Linked DNA regions of Homo sapiens: regions 1, 2, 3 and 4 are each linked to region 5. Evidence: fine-mapped expression QTL. A gene starts in region 5. Each other region holds a variant in brackets. All regions are shown on one strand. Distances are between the middles of the regions.

Region 1 (6,647 bases), 48 kb before region 5:
GAGCAAGACTCTGGTTTGTTTGTTTGTTTATTTGTTTGTTAAAGCTATTCTGTAGGGCAGAGGGCACTATTCCAGAGTCTGTGAGTAAACCTAAAATTTCTGTACTTTCTCAAAAATGAGACCATTGCACCTATGGCCATTAGAGAATCTTTTGAAAGAGGCTTGCCCTATGAGAATTTTCTAGGATTACTTTTTGAAGGGCATCAAGACTTTCGCCTCACTGTCTTCAGGACTATCCCATGCCTTGGCTATGTTCTTTCAGATGCAAAAGACAGATGTTGTGTTCTGTTTTTTTCATAAGGATGCAAGAGAAGATAAGGAAGACAAGATCTCAACCACTTTCAGCAAAGCTTTGCGGAGAATGCAACATCCTTCAAGACACCATGAAGCTCCACGCATCTGGTCATCTTGTTTCTTCAGGGAATAAATTTATTGTTCTCTGCTTCAGGTGACTGGAGGAGACAAAGTGATCCCCCATTTATGTCTCTGCCTCTACCTTCCCTGCTGCTACCTGCAACTCTCTGGTGTCTTTGGGGGGTTCCAACTCCTTGACGGGGAGGGCGAGTTCCCTGGGCAATTGGCCATCAGTGCACCCTGCCTCTATTGGGAAGAGCTCTTCTACCAGGCTGTTCCATTCTCACAAGTAAGCCTAAAAGAGATGGCTCCCTCAGTGGTTTACCTCTGGTCCTATCAATCTGATGATGAGGCCACTTAGTTCTAAGTAAAGTGACAGATGACCAAGGACTTTCTTTGAAGAGACATTGGGTTGGCCAGGCGCGGTGGCTCTTGCTTGTAATCCCAGCACTTTGGGAGGCCGAGGTGGGCAGATAACCTGAGGTCGGGAGTTTGAGACCAGCCTGGCCAACATGGAGAGACCCTCTCTCTACTAAAAGTACAAAATTAGCTGGATGTGGTGGCACATGCCTGTAATCCCAGCTACTCAGGGGGCTGAGGCAGGAGAATTGCTTGAACCTGGGAGGCGGAGGTTGCAGTGAGCCGAGATTGCACCACTGCACTCCAGCCTGGGCAACAAGAGAGAAACTGTCTCAAAAAAAAAGAAAAAAGAAAAGACATTGGGTGTTCTTGATACTTTAAGATTTCACAGACGAAGAAAATGCAAGTCAGCAAGCAGGTTGCTGAGTATTCCCAGGGTATTCCATCCTTTTCTTCCATTTACCAAAGAGCTAAAGAGTAGTTTATATTCATTGCCTTCACTTTTGCATCTTCACTTTTTTTATACTTCATTTGTTTACCATATCCCTGAAATCCTAGCAGTCTGACATCTGAGAGCCTACCTTCTTTCCCTTAACTCTAACTGAAATTAACTCCCAACTTTAATATCCATTTGTCTTTCTCTCCCCCAACTTGCTGCTGTGTTTAAAACTATTGATTGACAACCCTACTTGTAAAGGCCCCTACCTTGGCTCCTATGACTGCATTATCCTGGGGGTGGGCAGGAAACCCTAGGGAAAGCCTTTCATCAATGAACCTGGATGTGAGTCCTGATTTTTCTCAATACTATCTATGTCACACTGTGTATGTTAATTTTGTTCAATAAGCTTTATTCTTGTTCACCTCGTATATTTGTGACGATTGAGTAATGGGGAAGAATATATTTGTGATGACTGAGTAATGGGGAAGAATTTTGGATAACACCAGGGTTTGGGCTTAGGTGAATAAGAGAATAAATGTGCAGATATTCAAGGCTTACTTCTTATACGTAATTAGTTGCTAAGAGAGATTAACTTCACTTCTATCACGTCTCCCAGATTTATTCCTCCTCTTCATTTTTATTACCTTGGTAGAACTCTTCACCACCTTTGACTTGGCCTAGTGGTTAATGAGCTGAGTTCTGAGCAGCTTTTGGGATTTCCAGGGAGATTCCTCAAGGACTTCTCCTCATTTTAGCAAGGTTAGCTCCACTTTCATCTGTTTTATTTATGTGTTTGTTTTTTTATTTGAAGAAAATATTTTCATTTTCAACTTTAATAAGAAACGACACTTACCCAGTTATTGATTCTGCCTCATCATCGGTCTCTATCTTCAGATCACCTCCCATATGATCTTAGAGTCAGTTCTCTGATTACTTATCCTGAAGCATATTTCTGATCCTGTCATATTGCATTGCCCGGAAATCTACTGTCCAAAATAGCAGTCCTTGGCCATTTGACTACTTAAGTTCGTTAAAATTAAATTAAATTAAATTAAATTAAAAATTCAGTTTCTTAGTGGCACTAGCCATATTTCAAATGCTTAATAGCCACCTGTATCTAGTGGCCTCCATTTTGAACAACTCATTGTTAGAACAGTTCCATCATTCTGGAAATTTGTATTGGATAGAGCTGTGCTAGATAGCTTGATAAACATTTCTGACCTTGGCATTAGGATTTAAAATCTATCTTTACCTGGCTCCTCTGCTGCTGTTTTCCTTTATAAAATGCTTCTGTAAGACTGAACTGTTTTCAAACATGCCATACTCAATTCCTGCTGTCATGCCTCCACTTACCCAACCCCACT[C/CA]AGAGTGTCTTTTGCTCCATCACTGAACACCCAAATCCTACTCCCCATTTAAGGACTGTCCTCCAAGAAGTCTTTTCTAATTTCCGAACTCAAAGTAATTTACTCTTCCTGTGAACTCTTACAGGATTTTAAATAAAGCACTCTAATGTCATCTACCTCATTTCTTCTAGAATTATAACTATCTATACATGTATTTTAGCCCTTTAATTAGTCGGGGTTCCTCTGAAAGCTGATTCTGAGACAAGGATTCAAATCTGAGTAGTTTAGCTGAGAGGTGATCCCAGTAATCATCAGTGGAGGAGGGGGTTAGTAAAAGTGGGAGGCAAAGAAAATCAATTAAGGATGAATTATCAGTTCAGTTACTGATATGGAGGACTAGACCTCAATCCCACTGGAGGCAATGTGGAACAAAGTTATCCCAGCCAAGGTCAGGGAGGCTCCAATGTGTATTCACCAATGCCTTGCCCATTATTTATTTGAGGGATTCCAGGGAAAATCATTCTTGAGCATTTCCATTTTGTCCTGCATTCAGGGCAGGCACACTTGGCCAGTAAAGAAAATCCCCCCAGCAGAGAATTGCAGATACTCACAGCAAGAAGCCTTTCTTGTGAATGGAGGATGGATGTGGAGCTGGTCCGAGCAGTCTGCCTACTGCATCTGCTATGACACCCAGCAAACTGGAAGGTAGGTCCTGGAGGGCTGAGGTCACATGAGTCATAGATGTGTGTCTCCCTCAGTGACCTAACACCGGCAATCAGCAAAGAGTTGTTCAGCGAATGAATGCGTTATCCCGAAGATATTAGGTACTGGAGAAGAATTTGTCATGGAACCCAGTGGTTTGGATGGGTCAATTCACTTGCTGTCAACTGAGATAATCTCTGAATAGACAGACCTACGCCTAGGGTTTTCTGTTGGCTTTGATGTTCAGTACTTATGGACTAAACATTGTACAAGTGTGGGAATTTGTTGAACCAGACTGTAAAGGAGTTTTGAGATTGCTTCAGAAGCAAAGGAGCTTATATCTAGAGAGGAATACTCGGGAACATCGACTGCAGCACTTGCCTTGGTTAGATGCCTGATGATGCTGTTGTCACAGCCACCAAGGGAACCAGGTTTTTTCATTGCAGCCGGGCTTCAATACAGTCAGCCCTCTATGCCTGTCAGGAGAGGTGGCGGTGCAGTGTAAGACTTGGGAATCTAGGAAGAAAGGGTGTGTGTGTGTCTATGTGCGTGCATAGCATGTGTGTATGTGTGTGTAGCGTATATGCTATGTATGTGGTATGTGTGTGTATGTGTTTGTATGATGCATGTGCTGTGTGCTGTGTATGTTGTGTGTGGTACGTATGTGGTGTGTATATGTGTATTTATGTGTGTGATGTGTATAGAGTCGTGTGTGTGATGTGTATGTGTATGGTGTGTGCGGTGCATATGTGATATGTGCATGTGTGTGTGATGTATGTAGGGTCGTGTGTATGTGTTGTGTGTGTATGATGTGTTGTGTGTGTGCTGTGTATGTGGTTGTGTGTGTGGGTATATATGGTATGTGTATGTATGCATAGGTTTGTGATGTGTGTAGGGTTGTGTATGTATATGGTGTGTGTGTGATGTGTATATGTATATTTGTGTGATGTGTGTAGGGTTTTGTGTGTGTGGTGTGTATATGTGTGTGGTGTGTATATGTATGTGTCTTTCTGTCCTCCAACTTGCTGCTGCATTAGGGTTGTGTGTGTATGGTGTGTTAGGGTGGTGTGTGTATGATGTGTGTGGTGTGTATGTGGTTGTGTGGTGTATATGTGGTGTGTATATGTGTGTGTATATTGGGTTGTGTGGTGTGTGTGGTATGTTTGTGTGAGTGTGTGTGGAGTGTGTGCATGTGATGTGTATTGGGTTGTGTGTGTGGTGTGTGTGTGTGGAGTGTGTGTATGTGATATGTATCGGGTTGTGTGTGTGGTATGTTTGAGTGTGTGTGTGTGGAGTGTGTGCATGTGTGTATCGGGTTGTGTGTGTGGTGTGTGTGGTATGTTTGAGTGTGTGTGTGTGTGTGGAGTGTGTGCATGTGTGTATCGGGTTGTGTGTGTGGTGTGTGCACACGTGTGTGCTGAGAGTCATTGAGGGTACGCATTGCAGCCCTACAGGGCTGCAGAGGACCGAATGCCTGCCTGCACCATGTTGACCCTGATAGCAAGGCTGCTACAATATCGCCTTCCTCATGCCCGTGGCCTACTTTGCTCCCAACTCTCACAGACAAGGAGCCACACATTAAAAGCCTATGTTAAGCAGTCATGTGTCCCAAGAGAAGGGGAACATTGCAGTAAGAAATTCTGGTGAACGATAGAAAGCCAGGTGAGATGAACCTGGGGTACAGGGTCCTGGTCACCTAGCTAACTCAGTTTTCAAGGAGGAACCTGGTTGGAGACTCAGGTAGAAGAGGAAGCTCAGAACAAGTTTCAAACTGGAAGACCAGACAGTGGTTGCAAGTAGAGTCCCTCGAGGCTGAATCACAGCTCACAGTGTATAATTTTTAGAATACTCATCTTCCAGTCCCAGCTTGACACTGACTTGGGGAAGTTACATAGCCTCTTTCAGGCCCCTGCATCCTCATCTTTTAAGACAAAGATGGTGAAAGTCTCTGTTGTCAGGATTAGAGGATTGCTTTTAGCAGAAATTCCCCATGGAGAGCAACTATTATTATGGATGCTGGATCCTGATGGATACCTCGGGGATATCCCATCCCAGTTAAATCTGTAGTAAGGGTTCAGGATGTAACATGGCAGCCAGGAACTGGGGTCATTGCACGGTCATCAAACTCTGAGTTTCACAGTAGATTTGTAGGTTTAGGTTTAAAGTTGCTTACGCAATCCCAGGTTGGTTTGGGAACTAGTGTGGGCTGAGCCTACTGGTGTGGGGAGCTGTAGCCGCAGGGTTAGGGAGAGAAAGGCAGTGTAGAGAGAGATTACGTGGGTGTAGGATTGGGGCCTCATAGACATGCCTCAAAACATTGTGAAGTAAAACTGGGAATAGGGCAACACAAGTATAGGAAGAGAGAAAATGGCCTCTCCAGAATAACTTGAGAGATAACTGCGACCACATCATCTCCAAATACTTCTCCATCCCACACTATAGAATTCCTGTCTGGAATTCCAACTGCTGGATCTCCGGGTTAGGCAACCAGGAAGAGAACATTTTCTACAGGTGGTGACGATTAAAATGCTTCTGTCACCAGAAGGCAGAGAGGCTCAGGGGGGCTGGGGGGGCTGCAATCCTTCGTTCTACTTCTTTTATCGGCACATTGTTCTTTAAAGATGTGGAGATGGTCCCTGTTGGGATAGCACGTGAAACACACTGGTTTCCTGGCTGTAAATAAAACCACTGGTGTTGTGTTTGACATAGCTGCTTTAGTACTTGGTCAGCAGTCCCATATGGTCTAGCAAACCTCTTAATTACAACTACAGAGGACAGATTCCTCTAGTAAACATCACCATGTTTAACTTTTCCTCCTCCTGCTGCTGTCAGTGCACAGAGCATTTGAACTTGTAAGCAGCAGGGGAGAAATACCAAATGTACACTCCCCTACCAGAGCTGAGCTTCTCACACCATTAGAGTTTGAAAGGGCCATTTGGGCAGGTTGCATGAAAAACTGGTAGACACCTGCTCCACTTTACCAAACCACAGTGAAGCAAAGTTTGGTTACTGTGTTTTTTTTTTTTTTTTTTTGAGACGGAGTCTCGCTCTGTCGCCCAGGCTGGAGTGCAACGGCACAATCTCGGCTCACTGCAGCCTCTGCCTCCCAGGTGCAAGTGGTTCTTCTCCTCAGCCTCCCGAGTAGCTCAGACTACAGGCGCATGCCACCACGCCTGGCTAATTTTTGTGTTAGTAGAGATGGGGTTTCACCATATTGACCAGGCTGGTCTTGAACTCCTGACATCAGGTGATCCACTGGCCTCGGCCTCCCAAAATGCTGGGATTACAGGCGTGAGCCACCGTGCCCGGCCAGTTTGATTACTGTTTTAAAGAGACGAGAGAACTAATGTGAGCAAAGGGGCCAGGTAAGGAAAAGATGACTCCGGTATCCTTGAGTAAACTCTCTGTATCCAGGTGGTCAATTTCTGATCCAGTTCATTAGCACCCAT
Region 2 (6,647 bases), 73 kb after region 5:
TAATTTTGAGTGTCTAGTATGTGCCAGTCACTGCTTTGTGTACTTGGGGAACAAGGAAACAACAAAAAATTGTTCCCTTCAAAGCTCTCATTATAAGGGAGAGGGGAGTGTGGGATACAGATTGCCAACAGTAAAGAATAGATAAACCGCATACATTAGAGTCTTAAGCCCCACAGCAAAAAAGAAGAAACTGGGTGTTCTGGCCTGCAGCCGGGACAGTAGAGAGAAGATTGCATTGAAGTTTCCAAGTGCAATTTTACTGAACCAGTGAGAAAAATGACAAGAGTTTCTATTTCTTCCAATGAAGAATGGGTCTTACCTATAAACAAGTGTTAGAAGATATATGTGCATATATCCACCCGTCATCTTACTACTTGCAGACTTAGATTCTGTAGACATTTATATCTATAAAATGATACTCAGAATATTATTTCATAATTATGTAAATTATTATGTATACATTATATATGTGTACAGAATATTATTTCATAATTATGCAAATTATGTATACATTATATATGTGTACACACACATATAATCATACTATTATACATACACAGTTATGTGCTGCTTAACAATGAGGATCTCTTCTGAGAAATGCTTCATTAGGTTATTTCATCGTTGTGTGACCATCAGAGTTACACAAACCGAGGTGGCATAGCCCACTACACACTTACACTATACGGTAGACCCTATCATTCCTAGGCTGCAAACCTGGACCCCATGGTACTGTACTGAATACTATAAACCACTGGGATGCAATGGTAAGTATCTGTGTAGCTAAACATACAAAAGTACAGTAAAAATACTATCATCTTACAGGACCACCATTGTATATGCATCTGCCTTTGACTGAAGTGTCATTGTGTAGCAAGTGAATGTATATTACAATTTAAACAATACATGCCCTCAAGGAATTTTGATATCTCTTTCAAGTCATGTAGATATATAGCACATTTCCAGCTCCCCGAATAGTTTTTTTGCTTATTCAGGAATAATTTTCTAACCTGACCAATTTACATCTTTTGATCCCGTAAACCATAGAAGCTTCTCCCTGTTTTCGGCCCCATCCTGCTGACCTGTCTTAAAGCTAGTCCATGCTGGCTTTCAGCCTTCAACTGCCACTGGGAGTGACAAGGGTTCTGGAAGGCTGGGCTGGCGTGGCAAGGGGAGACTCCCCTGAAAGGAAGAATGTCCCCAGGGAGTGCGGCGTGGCCAGCACATCTTCTCACACTTTATTCCTGCTCTGAAACCCAAGTCAGAACTTCAGTTTCTGGTTTCTTTGAAAGTACTTGGTGAACAAATAAGCAAATAGGGGATAAGGAATGTCCAGTCATTGTTTGAGGATTTTCTGGAATTTGGAGCATTGTTATTTTAGTTGTTTAGAAAAGGCTTTGGTTGCCTGTTTATCATACAGTGCAGGCTCATGAATAACTTCCTGGGGGACTGGCCCACATTCTTGGTCCGGTTGGCGTCTCTTGCCCAGCAAGGCTCATGCCGGGCGTCTTCCCAACATCCTGTCTGGGAATGACCTTCTTTTCTCTGCTTACTAAGCTCCGAGAGTCCTTATTGAAATGACCTCCTGCACAGGAAGGCCTGCTGTGGCGCCTGGCAAGAGAAAACAGCCCTGGTTTCTAGGAAGTCCCACAAATACACGCACACACACACACACTCTGGAAGTCTTGTTAGGAAGAGGTGACATGTTTATGTTCTTCCACGCGTCTGATAAGGAAAACCAGCAGACATTCCAGAATGTACAAAACACGGGTGAGGACAGGTGCAAGGACCACAGCTGGAAACCAGCGAACACAACAAACCGCAGCTGTCTGGGCCATGCCACGCTGGTGTGGGCCAGAGGGGAAACCAAGGGCGTGCGTGTGTCTATGTGTGTCTGCAGATGCACTCAGGCTTAAAAATTAGAAGCCTGCAAAGCCCCCTGCATTTAAGAGAAAAAAAAATAATCATGGAATTTTTCTGGCCATCTAGAAAAAATTTTGCTCTTGCCAAAAATATTCAAAAGCTATCAGGATTTTTTTTTAACTTATCTAAATGATATTAGTGAGTGCAGGGGAATCCCAAACAAAGGGACAGTTGTGTTCTTTAAATTCACTCTTGGTTTTAAACGAGACCTGCTTGAACATAATAAAGAACTTCAAGAAGCCCTCTCACCTTGGTTGAATGATAAAGTGTTTAGAAATAATACCTTCATGATTATCATGTACAAGACATTCATCTTATAAGGACTCTGATGACTAGAGAGTTCAGTGCCTTGCCTCTGGTTGTAATGCAGAAGCGTGATTCCCACTTAGGGGTGTTCAACATGCCATGGCCTCCCTTTCTCTGTGATCAAAGTTAGCATCACAGTTGAGTGACCTACCCAGGGCCCTGAACTCACAAGCATCTCATATCCGGTTTAACATTCTGCTGTTGCCATGGTAAAATCTTTAATAAGGATTAATAAATTATTAATCCTTAATGAATCCTTAATACCTTTGAACTCGGATCTTGCAGGTGTACTCCAACATGAAAACGGAGCATGCATGTGAGCTGAGTAGTGACATGCAACATGCATGTCCATTGATCCTTGCTGCTCATTCACATACAGTGTTCGCGATGCCCCCTGGACACAGAATTCCAGTGGACCCACCACGTGTGGGGATTCAGGGGAGACTCAAAGCAAATACAAGGTAAGCATGGACAACCAAGGAAGGTGAGGTGAGGAAGGAGGAGGGACACTGACAGCTCCAAGAGGGCACATTTTCCATTTGAAGCAGAACTTGCTTTGACACAAGAAAGAAGGCAATGGCATTCTATTAATAACAAATACTAACGACCAACGGACCCTATTCTGTTCTTTCTTACTCATGCACTTCCCTGAATTAACCATATACTTCCTCTGAAAATGAAGACATAGACCAAAAGGAAAAAAGGGCAGCTGAGCGTTAAGATTTGATAGAGTTTGTGCATATCAAGAAGTAAAATAAAAGGCTGGGTGTGGTGGCTCACGCCTGTAATCCCAGCACTTTGGGAGGCCAAGGTAGGCAGGTCACCTGAGATCAGGAGTTCGAGACTAGCCTGACCAACATAGTGAAACCCCGTCTCTACTAAAAATACAAAAATTAGCCAGGTGTGGTGGTGCACACCTGTAACCCCAGCTACTCGGAAGGCTGAGGCAGGAGAATCACTTGAACCCGGGAGGCGGACGGTGCAGTGAGCCAAGACTGCGCCACTGCACTCCAGCCTGGGTGACAGACTGAGACTCCATCTCAAAAAAAATAAAATAAAATAAATAAATAAATAAATAAAAAGAGTTGAGTTAGTTTTGTGCAGTATTTCCACTGTTCTGGCAAGAAA[AAAAAT/A]ATATATTCATGTATAAGCTGAAAAATATGAATTACATAATTCCAGTGATTCTGCAGATGAGTTAAATACTCTCATATTTGCATTTATTTATTTATTTATTTTTAATTTTTTTATCTTTTTTTGAGATGAAGTCTTGCACTGTCACCCAGGCTGCAGTACAGTGGCACGATCTCAGCTCACTGCAACCTCCGCCTCTGGGGTTCCAGTGATTCTCGTGCTTCAGCCTTCAGAGTGAGTAGCTTGGGATTATAGGCACACGCCACCACGCCTGGCTAATTTTTGTATTTTTAGTAGAGATGGGGGTTTCACCATGTTGCACAGGATGGTCTCAAACTCCTGACCTCAGGTGATCCACCTGCCTCGGCTTTCCAAAGTGCTGGGATTACAGGTGTTGGCCATCGCACCTGGCCCATATTTGCATTTAAAACTGACATTGTACAATGTAAAGATGAACCATAAAATTCATGCTAATAATTTAAAATTTTAATTTTTCTTGACTTAGAACAACACTAAACAGCAGATTTTTTTTTTTAACATCATGATAAATTGAGACACTGCAGAAGGAAGGAAAAAAGCTTTATTTTATAGTACCTTTGACAATAGTTTCTTCCCCCACTTTTAAACAGTTTTCATTTGCACTGGGTCTCATGAATACAGAGCTTGCTGTGCTGGTGATAAATAGAAATTTTGGCAGAAACACATCACATGGTCGTTAGGCTTAATCTTGGAGATTTGTGTAGCTTATGTCTACTAGTGCTCACATCACCTCTACTTAGGATTTCATTTTAGCAATTGTCTTTTTTTGGATTCCCCCAGAAGCATACCAAGATGAGAATTAAAGTGGGGACGTGGTGGCCCTGACAAGAGAAACCTGTGTAAAGGGCTTACTGGAGAATACAGAGGGTGTGGGAATGATGAAGTAGTCAGGTTATTCAAGGGAGCTGAAGGGGCCACTGAAAAATGTTTCATGAGAAATGTGTGTACTTTCCTCAGCAGAGGCTATGCCGCCTGCCCTTCCCCTCCCTTTCTCCATCGTTTCTGGATGCTAGGACTTCAGAATTTGTTTAGGAGGAGACACACATTTGTGATGGAAATCACAGTGTTATGGCTGAATTATGTCCCTCAAAATTAATATGTTGAAGTCCAAACCCTCAGGAGTCCAAACTCTCAAGAGTGTGACTGTATTTGGAGATAGGGACTTTATAGAAGTAATGAAGTTAAAAAGTAAAGTCATGAGGGTGGGCACTAATTCAATATAACTGGTGTCCTTCTATGAAGATGAGATGAGGACATAGACGTGCACAGAGGGAAGATCATAGGAGCGCACAGGGGAAGATGCCATCTGCAAACCAAGGAGAGAGGCCTCAGGAGAAACCAACCCTGCTCACACCTGGATCTCGAACTTCTGGGCTCCAGGGCTGTGAAAGAACACATTTCTATTGTTTAAGCCCCGCAGTCTGTGGTACTTTGTTATGGAAGCCCTAGCAAATGAACACACGTGGTTAGAAAAAAAATCCATCAGGAAACATGAAACAGAGTTCCTTGCTAAAATGACCTTGGAAGACATGATGAGAGATCAGAATGCTAGGGCAAGAACAGGAGATGAGTCTACAAACCTGGGGCAAAACTGGAAGAGTTCTGAGGGCCAGCTCTGCCACGTAGTGGATTTGTGGTCTTGGGTAAGGTACTTAATCTCTTGGTGCCTACATATTGTCGACTGTAAAATGAGCTTCAAATACAGTATACATGATAGAGATGCCATCAGAATTAAATGAGATAATGCTTGCAAAATGCTCAATATGTTAGCTCATCTTGTTTTTCTGTAGGAAGTAAGAACTCCTTAAGGACTAGCATCATGTTTTCTTCTGCTTTGGAAGTAAACTGGAAGCATGTCTTGAGTGTTAGCCTTTCACTTCAAGGAAACAAATCTGTGTGGAAGTTGAAGTCTAGTTGGGGAAAACCAGATACACAAAGGAAGTGATGAAGCTAGAATGTGCAGTTCATCAGTGGATGCTTACCACTTACCAGAAACTGTGTCATACACCTGATTTCATACCCATCTCATTTTAATCCTCTACAAAGTTATGAGATGGATGTCTTTGCCTCATTTTCAAAGATGTGAAAACAATTGGCTAGAGTGGTTAAAGGATTTTTCCAGAGCCTGCTGCCAGTAATTTACGGAGCAGGAATCAAACCTAGGTGTGTGGGTATCAAATTCATTTATGCCATGACTATTAAAATAAAACTTCCTTTCAAATTATCTTCCTAATTACCCTGCAAGGCAGGTGAGGACCTATTGCTAGCACCATTTTATATATTAGGAAAATATGACCCAGGAAATCCTGAACCATCCAAGTACGTACCCAATGTTAAGTGTAAAGCCAACTCAGTTCCAGTGAGGTTTTCTGGCTCGTAATCTGGTGATATTTAGCTACTTAGATACTGTTTAGATATTCAGATTCTCAGTGAGTGACTCACAAGATTATGTCTGCGAACTGTGGCTAGATTTCATTTTGAAGGAAGTTTTGGAATGCCACTTTTCCTGTATAGGATGGGAAACCCATTGATGTCAGCCACGATCCCAGGGCAGCTGGAGTGCTGTGGGCCCAGCATGGGCTTGGGGGTCAGAAGACAGAATTTTTGCTCTGGTTCTGCCACAAATTGGCTGAGTGACTTTGAACACTTCATTCTTCTTGGCCATGAGTTTCTCATCTGCAATTTGGAGAGACTGTACCGAATAATTTCCAAAATCTGTTAAAAATCTGATTCTATGAAATGGAATCTCCGGTTGGGCCTAAGAAACTAGTAAGAAGCCCAGAGACGTATGGAGGTAGAGATTGCCCTCTGTTAGTCTCAGCAAGAAGGAAATCACCTTCCCCACAAAAAAAAAACCATTTTATAGCTGAAATTGCAGAGAAGCAGTGGCACAGGCAACATTGGTGGGTGGGGGAAAAGTCCTTATTAAAATCTTGGTTACAGGAATAAGTCTACTGGGGACTTAAAGAAATCCCATTTGCACTCCAAGGATCAGCAAGTACAAATCCTACAAGAACTCTCTGGCCATAGAACAGAGAGTCCTAGAACAAAGCCTGTTTTGATCCTTTGTCTTGGTTAAGGGTGACACCATATCTCCAGCATAAACGACGACGATTGCATTGTTCGCATGCCGGTAATAGAAAAGGAAAACACAACCAGGCTGTTTGGTTAGTTTTGGCATGCACAGTTCAGGGTGGGAAATGCCCTTGGGTTCTGGCTGACCACCTGTTATTTAATTTTTTAATAAGTGT
Region 3 (6,647 bases), 43 kb after region 5:
TCCAAAATTAACAAGAAAATAACTTGGATACATTAAATGTACTAATGTGTGGACCAAAGAGATTTAAACTATTGTTTTTACTCTAGAATGAAAGTATAATTGAACGGTTAATAATTAGTTTGTAGAGTGTCCTGCAGTTATTATCAAGTTGCTTTACATTATCAATTGTGTGTGTATGTGTATACTTTTAATTTTAGGGGTTATTTTTGGTTTCTTTGCTGTTTTCAGTTATTTCCATTGAGATTTTGTGCAACTGTCTCTCTTTTGATGTTTTGAGATGCAGTTGAATAGTTTGAGTTTGTGAATTGTCTTAATAGCTATTTATATGCTGAAATTTTTAAAAAGTTAGTAGCTTTCCTATAGACACAAGAAATGTTTAATGATATATATACACACACGTATATATCATTATATAGGTATATAGAGAGCTGCTATATATGAATACAGTCTACTTGGAAAGCTTTTTTTCAGTGAACACTTTCATGTTCTAGTGGAAAATTTGTTCAGTGTAATGATCTTTTAAATAGGTTTGAGGATGTTTGAAAATTTTGAATTTTGGGAAAATTTTCTTCACTTAATAGAGCTGGAGACCCTTGTTTGGGACATGACAAAAGTCCTTATTGATGTATTTGGGTTATATACTTTGTTAAAATTCGTATGTGATTTAGCAGTACATTTTCTTCGTGACAAATGCAAGAAGGGAGGGAGGATCCTCTATAGTGGACACTCCTTTATTTAAAAAATGTTTAATAAAATATTGTTTATAGTGAAATCAGCTCCCCAAAGAAGGAACTCCTACATGCCCAAACTAATTACAGTTGAACATACTGATTAAAAATGCCATAGATCACAGCTAGTCAGGAGGCCTCAAATAAACTGCAAATAATGCTTAAAACTTTAAAAGAAGGAGAACCAGCAGTCTTCCGAACCATGGGACAGTTCCAAGGTAATAGCCTACCTTGCCTAGGATAAGTGAAGTCCTAAATGATGGCTATCTTCAGGGCCTGGAGCAGAATTATTCTTTAGATCTTAATGTTTACCAAACAGTGTTACAGTTTGTTACCCAATATACTTTCTTAGTATTTGCAGCATACATTTCACTGCTCAAAAAAGTATAAGGGTTTTGTTTGTACTTTAAATGAGAGAAATAAAGAAATGAGTTGGCCTGTATATCTTGTATTTGTGATATGAGCAACGGGATAATTTGAAATCACAGAATGTTGTGGGAAAGGTCTTTAAAGAACCTCTAATGAAGAAAATGTGGCTGCCACATTGATGTACCTAGGCTGCCACTCATACAGCAAATAATTCTATTTTGTAAACACTTCGTGTGGATCCACTATGTAAAGTGCTCTACCAAGTATTTTCTCTAGTAAGAAGTACAAGAATTACCAAGATGGAATTCTTTACCTTGAGTACACCAAGAGCTAGCAAGATGATTTTTAAATCCTAAAAAGTTTGGGACAACATTTTGCTTCCTGATTTTAGTTGAGAGTTAGCCTGTTATCCCTCCAAATTCTCATTTTCCTGGTTCATCCACTAAATAGAATTTCCATAACTGAGATATCATGGCTGTGACATAGTGAAGAGAATACGAGACTCCAAGCCAGCAACACAGATTGAATTAAGACTCTGTCACTTGTCAACTTTTTGACCTTGAGCAAATCACTTAACTTCTCTGAGCCTCAGTTCATACTCCGTAAAATGTGACTAATACCTCATGTAGTTATTGTGAGGATTACGTGAGATTGTTTATGAATGGCAAAGCAGTATGTATTTCACAGTAAATGATCAACTGATAGTCTCTAGAATTTTTTTAAATTACATTTTGCAATTGCATTACCAATTGAATATGTTGTTTTGTAAAATTCATCAATTTTGTTTCATTTCTATATTTTCCTTACATATGCTTTAGGAAAGAAACTAAAAACGTTTTCTTATAATCTTGCTTCATCTCCTTTTCACTTTTTCTTTTTAAAATCAGCAGATCTTTAAGAACCTTTTGTGAATTGGTGGTGGTGGAAATGGCCAGTGCAAGCAGGATTAAATTAGGAGTTCTGTTGACCACTGGTTAAAATAGGAAAAGGGTAGAGAGGTAGTCAGCCTTGACTCCCTTATCTATTCCCACTTACTTCCCTTGGATTCATTCAGCCATGTTGATTTATTGACTTTCTGCTATTTGCTAATTATTCTTCTTGAAAAGTAAGAGCGATATATAACCCTTCAGTCTTCTATATGTCTGTTTCTTCTGCCGGCCCTGGGCCCTTGGCTCTACAGTGTAGTGCCAATTCTGTAGAAAAATAGAACGATATTCAGTGTCTACCAAGTTCTTTCTTCCACAGGCCAAGGGTGCTTAAGCCCTAGCTGTTATTTTGTTTCTTTTATTTATTTATTTTTTGAGACGGAGTTTCGCTCTTGTTGCCCAGGCTGCAGTGCAATGGCATGATCTCAGCTCACCGCAACCTCTGCCTCCCAGGTTCAAGCGATTCTCCTTCCTCAGCCTCCCGAGTAGCTGGGATTACAGGCGTGCACCACCATGCCTGGCCAGTTTTGTATTTTTAGTAGAGACAGATTTCTCTATGTTGGTCAGGCTGGTCTCAAACTCCCGACCTCAAGGGATCCACCCACCTTGGCCTCCCAAAGTGCTGGGATTACAGGTGTAAGCTGCCGTGCCCAGCCTATTTTTTTTTAACTTCAAATACTATTATTTTAAATTTATGTTCATTATGTAATTCAGGGAGTAACGATGCCTGGAGCAATTTCTGAAATATTCTCAAACCACTTCACTCTTGACACTACAGATTTTTCTCTCAGTCTCAATCAGAATCTCTGCAGTCATTATTTGTTTTTAAGATGTGAGGGACGAGGAAAATTACTGAAGAAATTCTAGCAGATTTCGATTGCAGAGAAATTTGGTAACACTTTTTGGGTAACTGGGTAAATTACTATTTCTTTTAATAATCGGGTGAAACTCTGAATTGTTAAAACGGACCAATAATCAAATGGTTTTATAATCTTTCTTAACTTCCCGTCCTTGTTATAACATCTTGGAAGAAGACTCTTCAGGATAAAAAGGATATTATTTGATTAAAAATTATAGCATTTGGAGAGGTAACACACAAAAACAAAAACATATTTGACAAAGCGCCCTACATCCTGTGTTTTGTTAGGACTAGAAACTATACTGGATGAGTATGTATACTGCATGTTTACACATGCTGTGTTTCTTTATATGTGAGGCTTCACTGACCACCGTGCATTTTGAAATTGTATTGCATTTTGTGTGTGTGTGTGGTGACAGGTTTGCTCTTCTCACTTAAGGAGCTCTGGTCTGTGTAGGCAGTACAGTGTTGTTAGGGAGGTTGCTGAATTATCTAAAAATGTATCCATGAATTTGGGGGAAATAATGCTTAATATCTGAAGTATTTTCAGTAAATGTGGAGATATATCAGATAATACTTTTAAATTAGTGGAAACACATTTCTGAGTGAACTGAGCTATGAACTATAATCATCTCTTCCCCTGAGTTTAGGGAAGTTGTTTTCACATTCTTTACATTTATTGCACATATACTGAACTTACATAATAACTCTTCCCTGATTTTGAGAACGAATTTAGCAATTTCCTAAAAATCTTCCTCCTCTTTCCATACAGATGTCGTATGTTATAGTTTAAACATATGTACAATTTGTTGATAGAATCCAAGGAGCTGGTTTAGGAAAGAATACTCTTAACCCCTACAGTTATGCAGCTCTAATCTTACTGAAAAGTAAATACTTTAGGCAAGTCAGGAGAGCATGAACCTCATACATACATTTTTACGATTATGTACTGCACCCACATGTATCTACTCTTGGTAGTAACATGACTCCACCCTTTTTGGGAATGTATTTAGGTGGATAACTGAAACGGAAAAGCAGTTTGACACAAATACACAGAAAGAGGAATTGCGGTGCATAATCAATCGTCTGAGTCCCATAACTGTAACACTTTTTCTCTTATAAATTGGTAGTTCCTAAAAATCAC[C/G]ACTTTAAAAATTTTATTCTGTCTTGCTGAATTAAGCAGAAATCACTTTTTTTAGAGCCTTGTTTAAAGGAACGTTAACTCGAGAGTACTACTGATGATGACGCTTCTCTTGTTTTTAAAGTATTTACACATCATTGTTAAGTATTTTTGGAATGGAACATTTTAAAGTTTTCTCCATAGAAAGCAACATAGTGGCACTTGTTGAGTAAATGATCATAAAAATGACTTGCTTTTAATAGCAGATGAGTTGATAGTTTAACTGTTGACACTTTCTTAATGTTTTTGATGTTGGATGCATTTACAATGGAAGAATTTTTTTGAAAGATTTGGCCCTCTCACCAATACACACATTCAGACTTGAGCTGCACGCATTTAGATGAACAAATAGGAAATTCACGGTATTTTTTGTTTTAGCCATCCAAAATTCATAGGATTCTACCAAAAATATTAGCCCCTGACTCTAGTTATTCTGAGATGAGGGAATCAACTTTATCTTGAAAGTTAACTAGCTAAAATGTCTTTATTTAAATAGCAAAAATATAGTTTACCTGACAAGTATTAAAAGTCTCACTTTCAAATTGTGTTAACTCTCAGACCACTGATGAATCTTTTGGTAAATCACAGGCAGATTTTAAAAGCTAAATGAAGCCTTAGTGCCTTGAAAGTTAAGATACTTGTGCAAAATGGATTTAGCAAGATTCAGGATTGGCACCAGTGAGTTGGCTAGATACACATCACCAGTGACTGGGAATTCAAAGTTTAGAAAGCCTAACGAATAGTAGCTACTAACTTCATATGGTTCAATGTAAATCAGTTACTTAGTCATTGACTGTGACAGATGACAGCTACTTTCACTATATTTTCATGATGTGGTATTTTTCTCTATTTTTTCTTTTTCCAAGTATGAAATGGAAAAAAATGTAGTTAAGAAAATTAAGTGTGAGACTTTAAAATTTAGTTTTGTTGTAAACTAGAGATTCTAGTGAACAGTGTTAGTTTTATACTGTAGTACAGGGCACACACTTTAACCTTTAGAAATATGTTTACCATCAGGGATTTATTTTTACTATAGAAATACTAAATGTACTGTGAAGCTTAAAGACAGGAGAATAAATGTTGGAGGGGTAATACACAAAAACAAAGGCATATTTGATGAAGTACCCTGTGTTATGTGAACACAATTTCCCCTTCTGTTAAGACTATAAACTATATGAGTATGTGTACTGCATGTTTACATAAAACAGTTTAATTTTGAAGGATTATTTTAAAAACTATGTTTATATATAATACCTAACAAGCTGTAAATATTGTATATTATTGATTTTTAATTTTATATAAGCAATTTTTTATTTCCCAATTCATGTACAAATCTCATTATGTATATAGCATAATTTCCTGGAGAACACAAATTTTGCAGTGAATTTTAAGTAATTTTAATTGCAGTAAGCATCAGTTTAGCCTAGAGATGTTGATCTTTATTTTAAATTATTTTTCACCATTCTCATTTTCTTCAAAGGGCAGCAATAAACATATGCAAGTTATTTTTAATTATAGAAAGTAGGTCTACAAAGATAAGATCTAGGTTCCAATTCATTGCTTTAAGGAAAAGATGCACAATTACTATCATTCAGTGTCTAATCACAGGACCATTTCTGAGGTCCACATGTGGCTCTCCTCTTTGTAATATACAGGGTGAACTCTTTACTGATACACACAAGACAACTGTTAAAAAGTGAATCCAGCACTTAAATGTCATTACACAGAATTTATTGGATTAAAAATTTGTAATATACAGTATTTTAATAAAGTTTCTGTATTCAATTTCATGCACTTATATATAAATAAACCTGTCTTTGAAAGCTTTATGGGGTGTTTGACTCTTGGTGATAAATCTTTTCAATTCATTCACTATGGACTCAAATGTCTTCTCTTGCCTTTTTGTCAATTTTTCTGGCCCTGTTTTACCTACAGATTTAGGAGTTAGTGCTTAAAAGCTGAGAGGCGACCAGCTTGGCCAACGTGGTGAAACCCGTCTCTACTAAAATACAAAAAAATTAGCTGGACGCTGTGGTGTGTGGCTGTAGTCCCAGCTACTTGGGAGGCTGAGCCTGGGAAATCACGGGAGGCGGAGGTTTCAGTGAGCCAAAAACGTGCCACTGCACTCCAGCCTGGGCGACAGAGTGAGACTCTGTCTCAGAAAAAAAAAAAAAAAAAAAGGTGTGAGGCATAAAGTCTGGTTAATAGACTTGCCTAGGATCAATCCTGGGCCACATAGCATCTACTTCTGAGTTACCGTTTAAAGAAACATGCTATCAATTTTATTAATAAGGAGCTACCATTTGTTGAGTGCTTCTTATCTGTTAAAGACACTTCCTATGTATTCTTTAACACTTAAGGTAACCCTTCAAGTGATATGTTTTATCGCCGTTTTATAGATGAAGCATTTGAAGTTAAGAGAAGGTAGGAATCTGCTCAAGGCCACAGAGCTAATAATTGCCGGGCTGGGGTTTTCTTGCTCGATTACCTGCTTCCCCCAACATAACTATGTTGTGTTGGTGTCTACAGAGTATTTTGGGAACTCTTACCTGTAATGAGATAATATCTCATTACTGTAAAAAACC
Region 4 (6,647 bases), 30 kb before region 5:
ATAGAATTCTGAGATGCTAGTTTTTTTTTCTTTCAATGCTTTAAAGATGTCACTCTTGTCTTCTGGGTTGCATAAATTCTAATGAGACATCTACTATAATTCTTATTTGGGTTGCCCTCAAGATTTTCTTTTGACTCTTGGTTTCCAGCAGTTTGAATTTTATTTGTCTAGTTAGATTTTTTTCCTTACATATGCTGCAAGGGGTCCCATGCATTTCTTGGATATGTATTTTGATGTTTTCCATTATTTTTATTTTTTCAAATATTTCATCTGATCAGTTTTTTTCTTTTTTATTCTGTTTGTATGGCATCTAACATCTCTTCATCTCATGCTTTGACTCAGGTATGACAGTGCTTGCATCCTAATAAGGGCCTTTCTTTAAATTTCAGTCTTCTTGGTTGTGCTGCAACCTTTGTTCTCTGATGGAAAAAAGTGTTATAATTGTACTGTTTATCTGGAGCTTTCTTGTTATGGTAGATGTTATGTTTTCTTTCCAGTTTTCCTATACACCGATAATATCCAAGCTGAAAGCCAAATAAAAAACACAGTTCTATTCACAGTAGCCACAAAAAAGTAAAGTAAAATGCCTAGCAATACAGTTAGCCAGGGAGGTGAAAGATTTCTACAATTAGAACTACAAAGCACTGCTCTAAGAAATCAGAAATGATACAAACAAATGGAAAAACATTCCATAATCACGGATAGGAAGAATCAATATTGTTAAAATGGCTATACTGCCCAAAGCAATTTATAGATTCAATGCTATTTTTATCAAATTACCAATGATATTCTTCACAGAACTAGAAACAACTATTTTAAATTTCATATGGAACCAAAAAAGAGCTCGAATAGCCATGGCAATCCTAAGCAAAAAGAACAAAGCTGGAGGCATCAAGTTACCTGACTTCAAACTATACTACAAGGCTACAGTAACCAAAACAGCATGGTACTGGTACAAAAACAGACACACAGACGAACACAACAGAATTGAGAGTCCAGAAATAATGCTACAGACCAACAACCATCTGATCTTTGATAAAGTTGACAAAAACAATGGAGAAATAACTCCCTATTCAACAAATGGTGCTGGGATAACTGGCTAGCCATATGCAGAAGATTGAAACTGGACTCCTTCCTTACACCATATATAAAAATTAACTCAAGATGGATTAAAGACTTAAATGTAAAACCCCAAACCATAAAAACCCTGGAAGATAATCTAGCAACTACCATGGTGGACATAGAACCTGGCAAAGATTTCATGACAAAGACACCAAAAGCAAGTGTGACAAAATAAAAAATGGACACATGGGACCAAATTAAACTAAAGAGCTTCTGCACAGCAAAAGAAACTATCAACAGAGCAAACAGACAACCTACAGAGTGGGAGAAAGTATTTGTAAACTATGCATACAACAAAGGTCTAATATCCAGAATCTGTAAGGAACTTAAACAAATCAACAAGCAAAAAACAAATCCCATTAAAAAGTGGGCAAAGGACAGAATAGACACTCTCAGAAGATACACATGTAGTCAACAAGCATATGAAAAAATGTTCAACATAACTAGTCATTACAGAAAGGTAAATCAAAACCAGGATGAGATGCCATCTCACACCAGTCAGAATGGCTATTAATAAAAAGTAAAAAAATAACCGATGCTGATGAAGTTATGGAGAAAAGGGAATGTTTATACACTGCTGGTGGGAAGGTAAATTAGTTCAGCCATTATGGAAAGCAGTTTGGCAATTTCTCAAATAACTCAAAGCAGAACTACCATTCAACTCAGTAATCCCATTATTAGGCATATACCCAAAGGAATATAAATGATTATACCATAAAGACACATGCACATGTATGTTCACTGCAGCACTATTCACAATAGCAAAGACATGGAATCAACCTAAATGCCCATCAACAGTAGACTGGATAAAGAAAATATGATACATATACACCATGAAATACTACACAGACACAAAAAAACAACAAGAACATGTCCTTTACAGCAATATGGATGGAGCTGGAGGCCATTATCCTACATAAGCTAACACAAGATCAGAAAACAGATACTGCATATTCTCACTTTTAAGTGGGAGCCGAACATTGAGTACATATGAACACAAAGAAGGGAACAACAGACATTGGGGCCTCCTTGAGGGTGGAGGGAGGGAGAAGCGTGAGGATAAAAAAACTATCAGGTACTATGCTTATTACCTGGGTGGTGAAATAATCTGTACACCTAACCCCCCTGACATGAAATTTACCTATATAAAAACCTGCACATGTACCCCAAACCTAAAACCAAAGTTAAAAAAATAAAAATTAAGATTAAAGTTTTACTATGAAAAACCATAAGTTTACACGGATATTTCCAATTGCAATCAAACATTACAGAGTACATTTCCTTTTACCCATGTCCACATGCATTTCCCTTCTCAACAGTGGGAAACCTGACTCTCATCCTCTTATTATCATAGATATGTTATATATATTATACATATATTGTGTATATTAAATTATAAAATATTACTATAATAAATGCATTTTATTAAGTCTAGAATACAGAGAATGTTTCTGAATTGCCAGCCCATACCCTTGTGAAAAGCAAACCTGCTATCGTTCAATATCTCTTCATATTTTTAAAGATAAAATTTACATAACTGAAGTGCATAAATCGTAAGTGTTCAATTTAATGGCCTTTAAAAATTTACATAATTATAATATTACATACTTACATACTTATAATATTACAAATTTACATACTTATAATATTACAAATTTAACCTCTTGTTTGAAGACTGCTTTGGATAAGCTCCCCATGCAACTTTAACATCTCTTTATTACAAAACTTATTGCAATGATTTCTCTGTAGAGTCATCCATTCTTTAGAGAAGTCCACTGTGTTCACTAGAATATTAACTCATTAAAGAAAGGGACTATGCCTTTTCAGTTTGGGGTCTCTACTTTTGGACAGTATCTGGTATACAACAAGGTACCAATGAATGTTTGCTACATAAGTAAAGTTCCATTGGAACAAATACCCTGCAGCTTTAAATAGGGGAGCTGTGTAATTTTAAATCTAAGATCTGCTTACTACTAAATCATCAGCTAAGGGAGATTCTACTAAATCACCAGCCAAGGGTGTTACGACAAGAATTGTCAGAGCATGAAAGGAAAAAGAAGGCAGCAGTTGAAATGCTAATAAATCATTAGGTTCCTATAACTCTTTACAGAGACATAAAGCTGCTCTAATCACTTATCAACTAGCCTTTGAAATTGGTGGGTGGCACAAATTATTTCCACTATATTTATATATTAAGACTTCAGTCTTAGCAAGATATTTCAAAGTAAGTATAGGTTATCTGTCCAAAACTTAATGGAGAAGAACATTTTTGTAGTTCTTGGTTGATATTCTGACATCTAAGATTATTATTTTCAGTTGTCTAAAAGCAGAGGGTAATCAAATCTGTTGACAGGTATTACTTTTATAGCACTAACTATCTTGGCAAAGAGAGAGGTTACATGTACTGAAATATGATTACACAGTTGTTTTGGAGTCGTGTCTGGAGATGTTCTGTTTTTCTTTAAATAACAATAACGAAGAATATTATATTCTTATATATATAATTTCATCAAATACTTGTTTCAAATGTCTGTAAGAAACTACCACAGAGCAGTTTTATAAAAAGAGCCCTGGAGAGAAATTTTAAATTTCAATTAATTTAAA[A/C]CTGGATTCTGTCTCTGGATCATCCAGCTGCCAACTTGAAACCTTAGTCAAGTCATAATACTTTCAGCTAAAGGAAGACAATAAAGCTACTTCATAAGGTTGTTATGAAGGCTAAATAATATGTCATTAATAATAATAATATTAATAATAAAAATAGAGTGAATTATATGTATTGGGGACTTACCATATGCTAGACACTCCAAATTTTGTATTTAATTCTCACACAACCAAATGAGGTAGGCCTTATTATTACCCTTTTTGAATGATGAGAAAACTGGAGTTTAGAGAAATTAAGTGTATTGCTCAAGGTCACACACAGTAAAGTAGTATAGCAAGAATTCAAATCCAGGTCTCTCATACCAAAATACAATTGTAATTGCATTTCTTCCCAAATACATGTAAAGTGCCTAACAGAATGTCTGACATATATGAAATCATCACGATGTGCTAGTTCCTTTTGTTTCTTACTCTACATCCTCTAGCACATCTCAAACATGCTATCAAATTTAACAACCACCTAAAATATATTATGCCATCAAATCTGCATTGCCAACTCAAACCACCTTTCTCCAGTCTCAAGAACTATACATCCAGCTTCTTTAAGTGTCCAACAGGCATGCCAAATTCAAAATGGCCTCATGCAAACTTATCACTTTTCTCTTAAATGTGCTCCATTTATGATCCCCAAACAGTGAATATTACCATTTATTCAGATGCCTAAAATAGAAATATGAGAGTCAGGGCTTTTAAAAAATAGTTTTGTAATCTGATTTAAGTCTTCAATGCTTATTGACATGTTGTTTATATTTCCTAGGATGACTGATCAAATCTTTCTAATCATTAAAAATTCAGCTTACATATTATCTCCCCTTTGGATCTTTGTAATATCAGTTAAATAGTATCACCTCTGTTCAGCTGCCATACCTTGTATATAACTCTTTTTTGTTATCATACTATATTTTAGTGATAAATTTTCATATTTCTCTCTTCTCCTACACTAACACAGTACATCTGAACTTTTGGGATGATAGAAATGTTCTATATATGTGCTGTCTACTATGGTAGTCAATAGCTACATGTGGCTATATATTGAGCATTTGAAATGTGGCTAGTGGTATTAACGTAATACCTGTCTGTCAACACAGGAACTAACTTCTTAATTTTGTTTATTTTTGCTTAATGTAAAAATAATTTTAAAATAGCTACACATGGCTAGCAACTACCGTAATGCACAGTGTAGCACTTGATTTTGAGCTCGGTGAGGGCAAATACCATATCTTACTCACTTTTATCCTATGCCTAGAACATAGCAGATCCTCAAAAAATATATGGAGAATGAGTGAATGAATGAATAAATATTTTACAGTGGTAGAATAGAGAAAAATCTACTTATCATAAGCACCAGGGAACTATTACATAGAGGTACTGTGAAAACTAATAAGCACTGATTTCTTGGTGAATAAAAACTTAATGCAAATAAGTTTCTAAAATGAAATGGAGAAGTAATTTCTATCGGGTCAACCCACTCTCAGGTAACAAAAATAAGCTCCATACAAAATATAAAATATAATTGGATTAATCTAAAGGCACTCTAGAAGACATGAAAGAAATTGGAGGTAAACTTATACTTGAAAGAAGGAAATGGCCATGTAGTTTTCCTGTTTTGATACAACATTTTGCTGGAGGGTAGGCCCTAGTTGCAGCTTTCTTGGTGGGTAAAACTCCAGTAGAAATCCAGTCTTATTGGCTTGGAGAACCACAGGACAGATTTTGGAGGCCATGGCAGCTGGAGATTGAGGGGGAAACCCACAAAAGGTAAAAGCCATGGGTGGGGCGGGGCAAGGGGGATTCTATATATGAACATGGATAAAATCTCTGGCTGACCCCTGTACTACATATGCACAGGGATAACTCCAAATAGGCCTTATGAGTCTAAAATAACTGAATTGAGTTTTCAGCTGCTCCACTCCACAAAAAACAGGATTGGAGTTTGAATTAAAGTTAAATTAATTGCCTGCTTAAAAACAAAAACAAAGAAAACAAATTCCTCAAAGGGACATAACAGATTCCAGTGTCCCTACAACACATCATTCATAATATTCATGTGATCCACAATTACTAGATTTATGAAGAAACAGAGAAATGTGATCTCAAGACAAAAGGCAAATAAGTGAAGACTGACACTGCGATGACCCAGAGGTTGGAATTAGCACATAGGGATTTTAAAACAACTATTATAACCATTCCAAGGATTTAGAGAAAAACATGCTCACAATGAATGAAAGGAGAGAAAATTTTAGCAGAGGAATCAAAACTACAAAAGAGAAACAAATGAAAATCCAAAAAATTTTTTAAAACCTGTATTTAAAATTTGCAAGATAACTTTAACAGTAGATTAAAATGAGAAAGTCAATAAATTTGAAGATAGAGCAATAGAAAGTAGCTAACCTAAAAAAAACAAGAGAAAAGATTAGAAAAAAGTAGAGTCTCAGTGATCTGTGGAAACAATGTGGAAAGGTCTAGCATATGTGTAGTTGTAGTCTCAAAAGAGGAGAGAGAGCAAAAATATTTGAGAAAATAATTGGAAAATATTTCCCAAGTTTGGTGAAAGGCATACATTTACAGATATAACTATAACAAACCCAGTGAAGCCCAAGCAGGAAAAATACAAAGAAAACCACATGTATGCACATTAGAATCAAACTTCTCAAACCATGGTTAAAGAGAATCTCTTGAAAACAACCACAGATTAACCACAGATTAACATATTCCATAATGTAGAATGATATGAAATAACAATAATTTCTTATCAGAAACAATGGACACAAGGAGACAGTGGAATGACATTTCTAAAATGGTGAAAGGAGGAAAAAAGTCAACTAAATGCAAAAAAAAACATTTGAGGATGAGGGCAAAATAAA
Region 5 (6,647 bases):
ACTTTGGACTGTGGACTATTGAGTTGATGCTGAAATGAGTTAAGACCTTGGGGAACTGTTGGGAAGGCATGATTGATTTTGAAATGTGAGGACATGAGAGTTGGCAGGGACCAGGGGAGGAATGATATAATTTGGCTCTGTATGGTTTTATCAAGGGTCTCCACTTTTGCGTCTTCCTCATTCTCTCGTTGCCTGCTGCCACCCATGTAAGACGGGACTTGCTCCTCCTTGCCTTCCACCATGATTGTGAGGCTTCCCCAGTCACATGGAACTGTAAGTCCAATTAAACCTCTTCCTTTATAAATTGCCCAGTTTTGGGTATGTCTTTATCTGCAGCGTGAAAATGGACTAATACGTTAAGTTGATACCAGTAGAGTGGGGTGCTTCTGAAAAGATACCTGAAAATGTTTTTCTCAAAAGATCAATATCATTTTATATTTTAATTGATTTTAAAAAGCTTTCCTCTAGGTTGTCTCTGGACAGTTTTAAAAATGACTAAGGCTAATGGGTGTTCCCTCACTTACATGAGAGAAATAAACCAGGAATTTTGGTTTATGAATTACGTTTGTGAATTGTTTCATGCTGAAGGGCACAGAGTTGAAAGGAAATTTTTGGATTCACTTGGGGTGGTCCCTGATTTCTGACAGGAACGTGACTAAACTCTTCCTGAATTGGTGTATTAATTCAAAATAAAAAATCTGTAGGAAAGAAATTCCAAAACTTTCATTTGTATTAACTCAGTTTTGGGTTTCATAACTCTGGCTGTTGGGAAAATGTCTAATTCTCTTAAGGATATAAGCTTCCAACACAGTCAAGATCATTACTTTTATCAAGGAAAACCTAAGTAGCCTAGAGAGTAGAGATCTTATCTTCAAATGTTACAGATAACACCTTGCACAGAACATTACAGATAGTAGATGCCAAATAAATATAGACGCCAATTAAATTGAACTGAACAGCAGGGGTGAAGTTGTTGGGCAGCAAATAACATTACTGACTTGAGACTTCATTGCTGTGTCTTTCTCATTTCCTGACATGAACACTTGGATTCTGTAAAAAATATTTATTCAGAACAAGAACAATGCTGACTTTTCTATGAAGATCATTCAGTGATTCATTCAACAAATATTTGTGGTGCAGGTGCCAGGCACTGTCCCAGGTTCTGAATATTTTCACTGCGTGCTACTGTGTTTTAAATAATAGTGTGCAATCCTAAGAACGTAAACTAACTAAAGGTTTCTGATATGAGAGTTTAATGAGCCCCTGCTCAGGGAGTTTGCTGTGAACCCTTCACTGAATGTGGTCACATTCCCTAACATCACTAATTATGTAATGCCAAGTCCCTTAAGAATATCATTAGGTAACCTGCACTTCCCCATCAAGAATCTTAAAGTGAGGGAGTTAACAGTGGGTTAAGAAAGATAATGTGGTTGCTAGAAAGAATAATAGACCAGGAATTCAGAAACTGAGCTGTGAAGTGCTGTCATCTCTGTCAAGTCACTTAATTCACAGAATCTGTTTCCCTATCTGTAAAATAAAATTAGAAAAATGTTAAAGCGCTCTTTTAGGTTTGATATTCTGTAATCTTGTTAATAGATCTAATTAAGTCTAAATTCTAGGAGGAAGATAAACTCTACATTAAGAGTTTTGGCTCAATTCCTATTAATGGTGCAAAAATTTCTCTTATGTTGTGACATCAAAAAGAAAATACAAATAAACAAAGAAATAAATGTGTATGTAAATATTATTTTAAAGTGGTCACCAAGAGCACCATTTGACAGGTAATTTGACCCTTCAGTGCTTTGTCAAATATACTTCATGATTTAGCTACAGCAGGTATTTCTTCACTTCTCTTTGTAAATTTTTCTTTATCCAGATGGCAGAGGGGTTGAAAAAAGGTGGGGGGAGGGGCTGGCTACTGCATATTTATGTTACTGCTAAAACTTAAATTTTTATTTTTTAAAGTTAGAAGGTTTCCAATTTCGAGGAGTTTAACTTGTAGTTGGATTTTAGATGCTCCTCTGGCTAACGCTGGACATGAAGACAGACAGCAAAGCGTGGGGAGAGAGATCTAGTTTAAGTTCGAGGGAAAAAAATAACAGACGCAACTTAGATAAAAGAATACTACCATCAAAAAAAGGGGGGCTAGAGCCGGCGATGGCCTTGAGGATTAGGACACCTGCCGAGCCTGGAGTAAACAGGTAATGTCAGGCAGGTCCTGGAACCCCGGGAGGCCCAAGTTCTTGCTGCGGGAAGAGGGATTAGCAGAATGATAACGCAGGTCTGTTTGTGTTTTAGGGGTTTTAACATGCATTCTGCAAGTAAGTGACCTATCCAGGTCATTCGATTCAGGCTCAGAAAAAAAACCCCGCAAATTAATATATCTAAATGCTGAGATAGTGACACCTTTTTAAAAAAGTTATACATAAGCATCTTTATCAAAAAGCATTACATTTTAAGGCAAAAATCTGAACTGTCACAGTATCCACCTCACCGAGTTCAGCAGCCCCACCTTGGGTCAGGGCTGCCCCTGCAGCGCGGGCCCCCGAAATGCCCGCACCGCCCACGCCGCCCGCACCGCGCGCACCCAGCCGGGCCAGGGCGAGGGATCCAGGTCTCCCGGTCTCTCAGGGCGCGCGCCCGGGGTCCGGGGGTGGGGGGCGTGGAGGCGGTTCCCTTGGAGCGCCCAATCAGCAGTAAGGCCCGGCGGTGGCGCCAGTGACGTAGACCGCGCTTCCCTCCGCCCCACTGCGGGCCGTCGCTCGGCGCCGTCAGCCACGCGCGCTGCAGCGCGAGGGGAGAGCGAGAAGGAGGGCTTTGGGGCCGACCGGCTGTTGGAGGGCGGCGGGTCGCGGGGAGCGGGGGAGTGAGCATGCGCAGCGGCTCCGGGGAGCGCAGGGGAGGAGGGGCCGGCGCTGAGAGGCGCGCGCGTGCGCGTGCACGAGTGGCCCGCCGGCGGCTGCGGGTGGAGGGGGCGGTTCCTCGAGTGTCGGCGACCCGAGGGCGGGCAGGCGGGCGGCAGGTGCCGCCGCAGCCTCTGGCTGGTCCCGCGTCTCCGTCCTCCGGCGGCGATGAGCTGGGCCCTGTCGGGGGCTGCACCTGCCGGCTGCCCATCAGCACCGGCCTCCTGGCGTGACCTCGGCCTCCTCGCGTGTCCAGTCCCCGCGGCGCGGCGCTGCCCCTGAGAGGGAGCGGCGGCGGCCTCCTCCGCCCCGAGTCCTCGCTCGGGGGCCGCGCGAGGACGGCGCCCGGCCCCCTCCCCTCCTTCCTCCGTCCGCCGTCCTCAATGTCTCCCCGGCGGGGAGGGGGCTGCCTGGGAGACACGCTGAGCGGCCCCCCCACGGAGGCCCTCCGGCTGCAGCAGCAGCAGCGCCCGGCCCGGCGTCCCGCAGCCTCCACCAGCGGCGGCGGCCTGGAGGAGCCGCGCACCCGCCGCCGCCCCCCGAGCCTCGCAGCCGCCGCCGCCGCCCGGCACCCGAGGAGAGGGCGGCGGGCGCCCCTCGGGGAAGATGAAGGCGGAGGGGGGCGACCACTCCATGATCAACCTGTCGGTGCAGCAGGTCCTGAGCCTCTGGGCCCACGGGACGGTGCTGAGGAACCTCACGGGTAATTGACGCGCCTGGGCTGGGGACGGGGATGCGGTCCGCCCCTCTCCTGTCTTCTCCTTCCTCGGGAGGGGACACGCTCCTCGCCGCCCCACCCCCGTGCGCGCCCCGCTCGGAGCTCCAGGTCCCGGCGAGGAAGGTGTTAATCGGAGCCACTCTGCGCGTGTCCCGGGGGCGCCGGCTCCCGCCACCCCCTTCCCTGAGTCGCCAGGGGAGCATCAGCGACCCCCGCTCCTGCCCCGCACGGGGAGAGCTCCCGGTGGCGGCCCGGCCTCTGTAGTACGCGCGGAGTAGCTTTAGTGCTGAGACTTGAGCGCATTTCGCTTTTATTCCATTACCCTCCTCCCCTCCCCCTTCTACACACATCGCTTCTTGCTATTTACATCTTTTTCTGATTTAGTTCTTTTTCTTTCTGGCAAATCTCAAGCCAAATGTAGAACCTAAAATCATTGCCCACAATGGTCGATTTACTTTTTCAACCGCTAATTTTTTGGGCGATGTAGATAACTGAGTAAATTATAGTGGGTCAGGGGCTGAGCTAAGGTCTAGTGCGGTCTAAGCGTGTTAGCTTCATATATCTCCTTCCCCTCCCATTTCCTTTTGTCTGTCTGTCTCTTTCCCTCAGGCCTCCAGCTGCTGCTTCTGAGACATTTGATAATTTTGTGTATTTCCCTTCATTTATTAAGGCTGTCAGTAATTGGCCTTATAACATCAATTTCTATTTGTAAAAGTGAGTGATAAAACACACAATATTTTTATTCAGTCTGTAGATTTGCTTTGTGAAGAAACTTCTGGTTTTGTTATGTGGAAATGCTTACATTATACTTTGAGTTCCGAATTTAAAAATTATTCTCTGAAGTAGAATTTACGAGAAAGAGATTCAGTTGCGATTTGGTGACTCCTCAGTGCCTGCTTTTCAGAGGAAAAAAATCTTAAAAAAATACTCAGAATTTAATTCTTGAAAATGTGTAAGGCAGTTAATTTCAGTAGAACATTAGTATTTCAAAATGCATTTTGTCAAACTGGTTAAAGTGTTGTGAGTATTTTACAAATATAACCTGGGTTCATATATATAACATATATATAAAGTCTGGCATGGTATAGAATACAAACATTCATAGAAGAAAATTTTATGGAATTATATACCACAAAAGACAACTTTAAGGACACTGGTTTCTTCGAATGGAAACTATACAGTTAAAGTAGATTCTGGATTGCTTCATGCTATCCTCACTTTTAAGCTGTGGTTATTTAACTTGAAACAGACTGACTTTACATGATGATTGCCGGTAAGGAATATATTGTTATAATTCTGGAAAACTAAATGGACATAAAGACCATCTCATGATTCAGTTGAATTTAGAGGTAGACTGCTTTATCTTACTTATGATTTTGCTTGCATTTATCCACTGTTTGGTATTTGAACTGTACCAGTTTTTGTTTAAGTGAAATGAAAAGTAGGGACTTAACATATATTTGTGCAGGCATACCTTGGAAAGATTGCAGGTTTGGTTCCAGAACACCACAATAAAGCAAATATTGCAATAAAGTGAGCCAAATGAATTTTTTGTTTTCCTAGTGCATGTAAAAGTTACATTTTACCTGTAGTCTTTAAATGTGAAATAGCATTATGTCTGAAAAAAAAGTACAGACGTTAATTTAAAAATACTTTATTGCTGAAAAATTGCTAACGATCATCTGAGCCTTCAGCAAGGACGTTATCTTTTTTCTGGTAGAGGGTCTTGTCTTTGTGTTGATGACTGCTGACTGATCAAGGTGATGATTGCTGGAGATTGGGATGATGGCAGTTTTCTTAAAACAGCAATGAAGTTTGCCACTAAGGAAGAGCAATAGACTCTTCCTTTCATGAAAGATTTCTCTGTAGCATGGGATGCTGTTGGGTAGCATTTTATCCACAGTAGAACTTTCAAAATTGGAGTCAGTCCTTTCAAACCCTGCTGCGGCTTTATCAACCGAGTTTATCTAATAGTCTAAATCCTTTGTTGTCATTTCCACGGTGTTCACATGATCTTCACCAGGAGTAGATTGCATCTCAAGAAACCACTTTCTTTGCTCATCCATAAGAAGCAACTCCTCATCCATTCAAACTTTATCATGAGATTGCAACAATTCAGTCACATCTTCAGGCTCCACTTCTAATTCTAGTTCTCTTGCTATTTCGACCACACCTATGGTTACTTCCTCCACTAAAGTGTTGATCCCCTCAAAGTCATCCATGAGGAATGGAGTCAATTGCTTTCCAACTCCTATGAAAGTTGATATTTGGACCTCTTCTCATGAGTCACGATTGTTCTTAAGGGCATCTGGAATGGTGACTCCTTTCCAGAAGGTTTTCAATTTCCTTTGCCCAGGTCCATCAGAGGAATCACTATCTCTGGCAGTTTTAGCCTTCTTACACAGTGTATTTCTTAAATAATAAGACTAGAAAGTCAAAATTACTCTTTGATCCATGGTCTGCAGAATGGATGTTGTGTTAGCAGTCATGAAAACAACATTGATCTACTTGGACATCTCCATCACAGCTCTTGGTTGACCAGGTACATTGTCATTGAAGAAAATACTCATTAAAATGAAAGGAATCTTTTTTTTTTCTGAGCAGTTCTCAACAGTGGGCTTCACATATTCAGTAGGCCGTGCTGTAAACTGATGTACTGTCATCCAGGCTTTTTTGTTTCATTTATAGAGCACAGCCAGGGTAGATTTAGCATAATTCTCAAGGGCGCCAGAATGGTAAATGAGCATTGGCTTTAATATAAAGTCACCAGCTGCATTAGCTCCTAAGAAGAGTCAGCCTGTCCTTTGAAGCTTGGAAGTCAGGGATTGACTTCTCTCTAGCTGTGCAAGTCCTAAATGGCATCTTCTTCTGATATAAGGCTGTTTAATCTACATGGAATATCTGTTGTTTGGGGTAGCCACCTTCATCAGTTAGCTAGATCTTCTGGATAATTTGTGCTTCTACATCAGCATTTGCTGCTTCACCTTGCACTTTTATGTTATAGAGGTGTCTTTTGTTAAACCTAA

Evidence for each region. PIP is the estimated chance that this variant, and not a neighbour inherited with it, causes the effect.
Region 1: its variant is fine-mapped to the expression of TMEM170B in whole blood (TOPMed, PIP above 0.99).
Region 2: its variant is fine-mapped to the expression of TMEM170B in whole blood (INTERVAL, PIP above 0.99).
Region 3: its variant is fine-mapped to the expression of TMEM170B in whole blood (INTERVAL, PIP above 0.99). The same link has a PIP of 0.9 or more in blood mononuclear cells.
Region 4: its variant is fine-mapped to the expression of TMEM170B in whole blood (INTERVAL, PIP above 0.99).

The regions. Positions count from the first base shown.
Region 1 is chr6:11,487,264-11,493,910 of GRCh38, forward strand. LOC105374928 (a long non-coding RNA gene) reads left to right here. Exons shown (of 5, transcript NR_187824.1): 2 at 302-448; 3 at 3,050-3,201. Among named protein-coding and RNA genes, the nearest start is that of TMEM170B, 47 kb to the right of the region's middle. RefSeq lists an enhancer at 4,742-4,861. The variant C/CA (reference allele first, on the strand shown) is at 2,518.
Region 2 is chr6:11,608,182-11,614,828 of GRCh38, forward strand. No RefSeq gene overlaps it. Among named protein-coding and RNA genes, the nearest start is that of TMEM170B, 74 kb to the left of the region's middle. RefSeq lists an enhancer at 1,133-1,674. The variant AAAAAT/A (reference allele first, on the strand shown) is at 3,355.
Region 3 is chr6:11,577,634-11,584,280 of GRCh38, forward strand. TMEM170B (transmembrane protein 170B) reads left to right here. Exons shown (of 3, transcript NM_001100829.3): 3 at 1-5,891. Among named protein-coding and RNA genes, the nearest start is that of TMEM170B, 43 kb to the left of the region's middle. The variant C/G (reference allele first, on the strand shown) is at 4,027.
Region 4 is chr6:11,504,712-11,511,358 of GRCh38, forward strand. All of the region lies in intron 4 of LOC105374928 (a long non-coding RNA gene), which reads left to right. Among named protein-coding and RNA genes, the nearest start is that of TMEM170B, 30 kb to the right of the region's middle. The variant A/C (reference allele first, on the strand shown) is at 3,727.
Region 5 is chr6:11,534,769-11,541,415 of GRCh38, forward strand. It overlaps TMEM170B (transmembrane protein 170B), which reads left to right and starts at 2,981. Exons shown (of 3, transcript NM_001100829.3): 1 at 2,981-3,606. The coding sequence starts at 3,510. RefSeq lists silencers at 2,445-3,274, 3,305-3,464, 3,565-3,644, 3,655-3,934 and an enhancer at 3,274-3,775.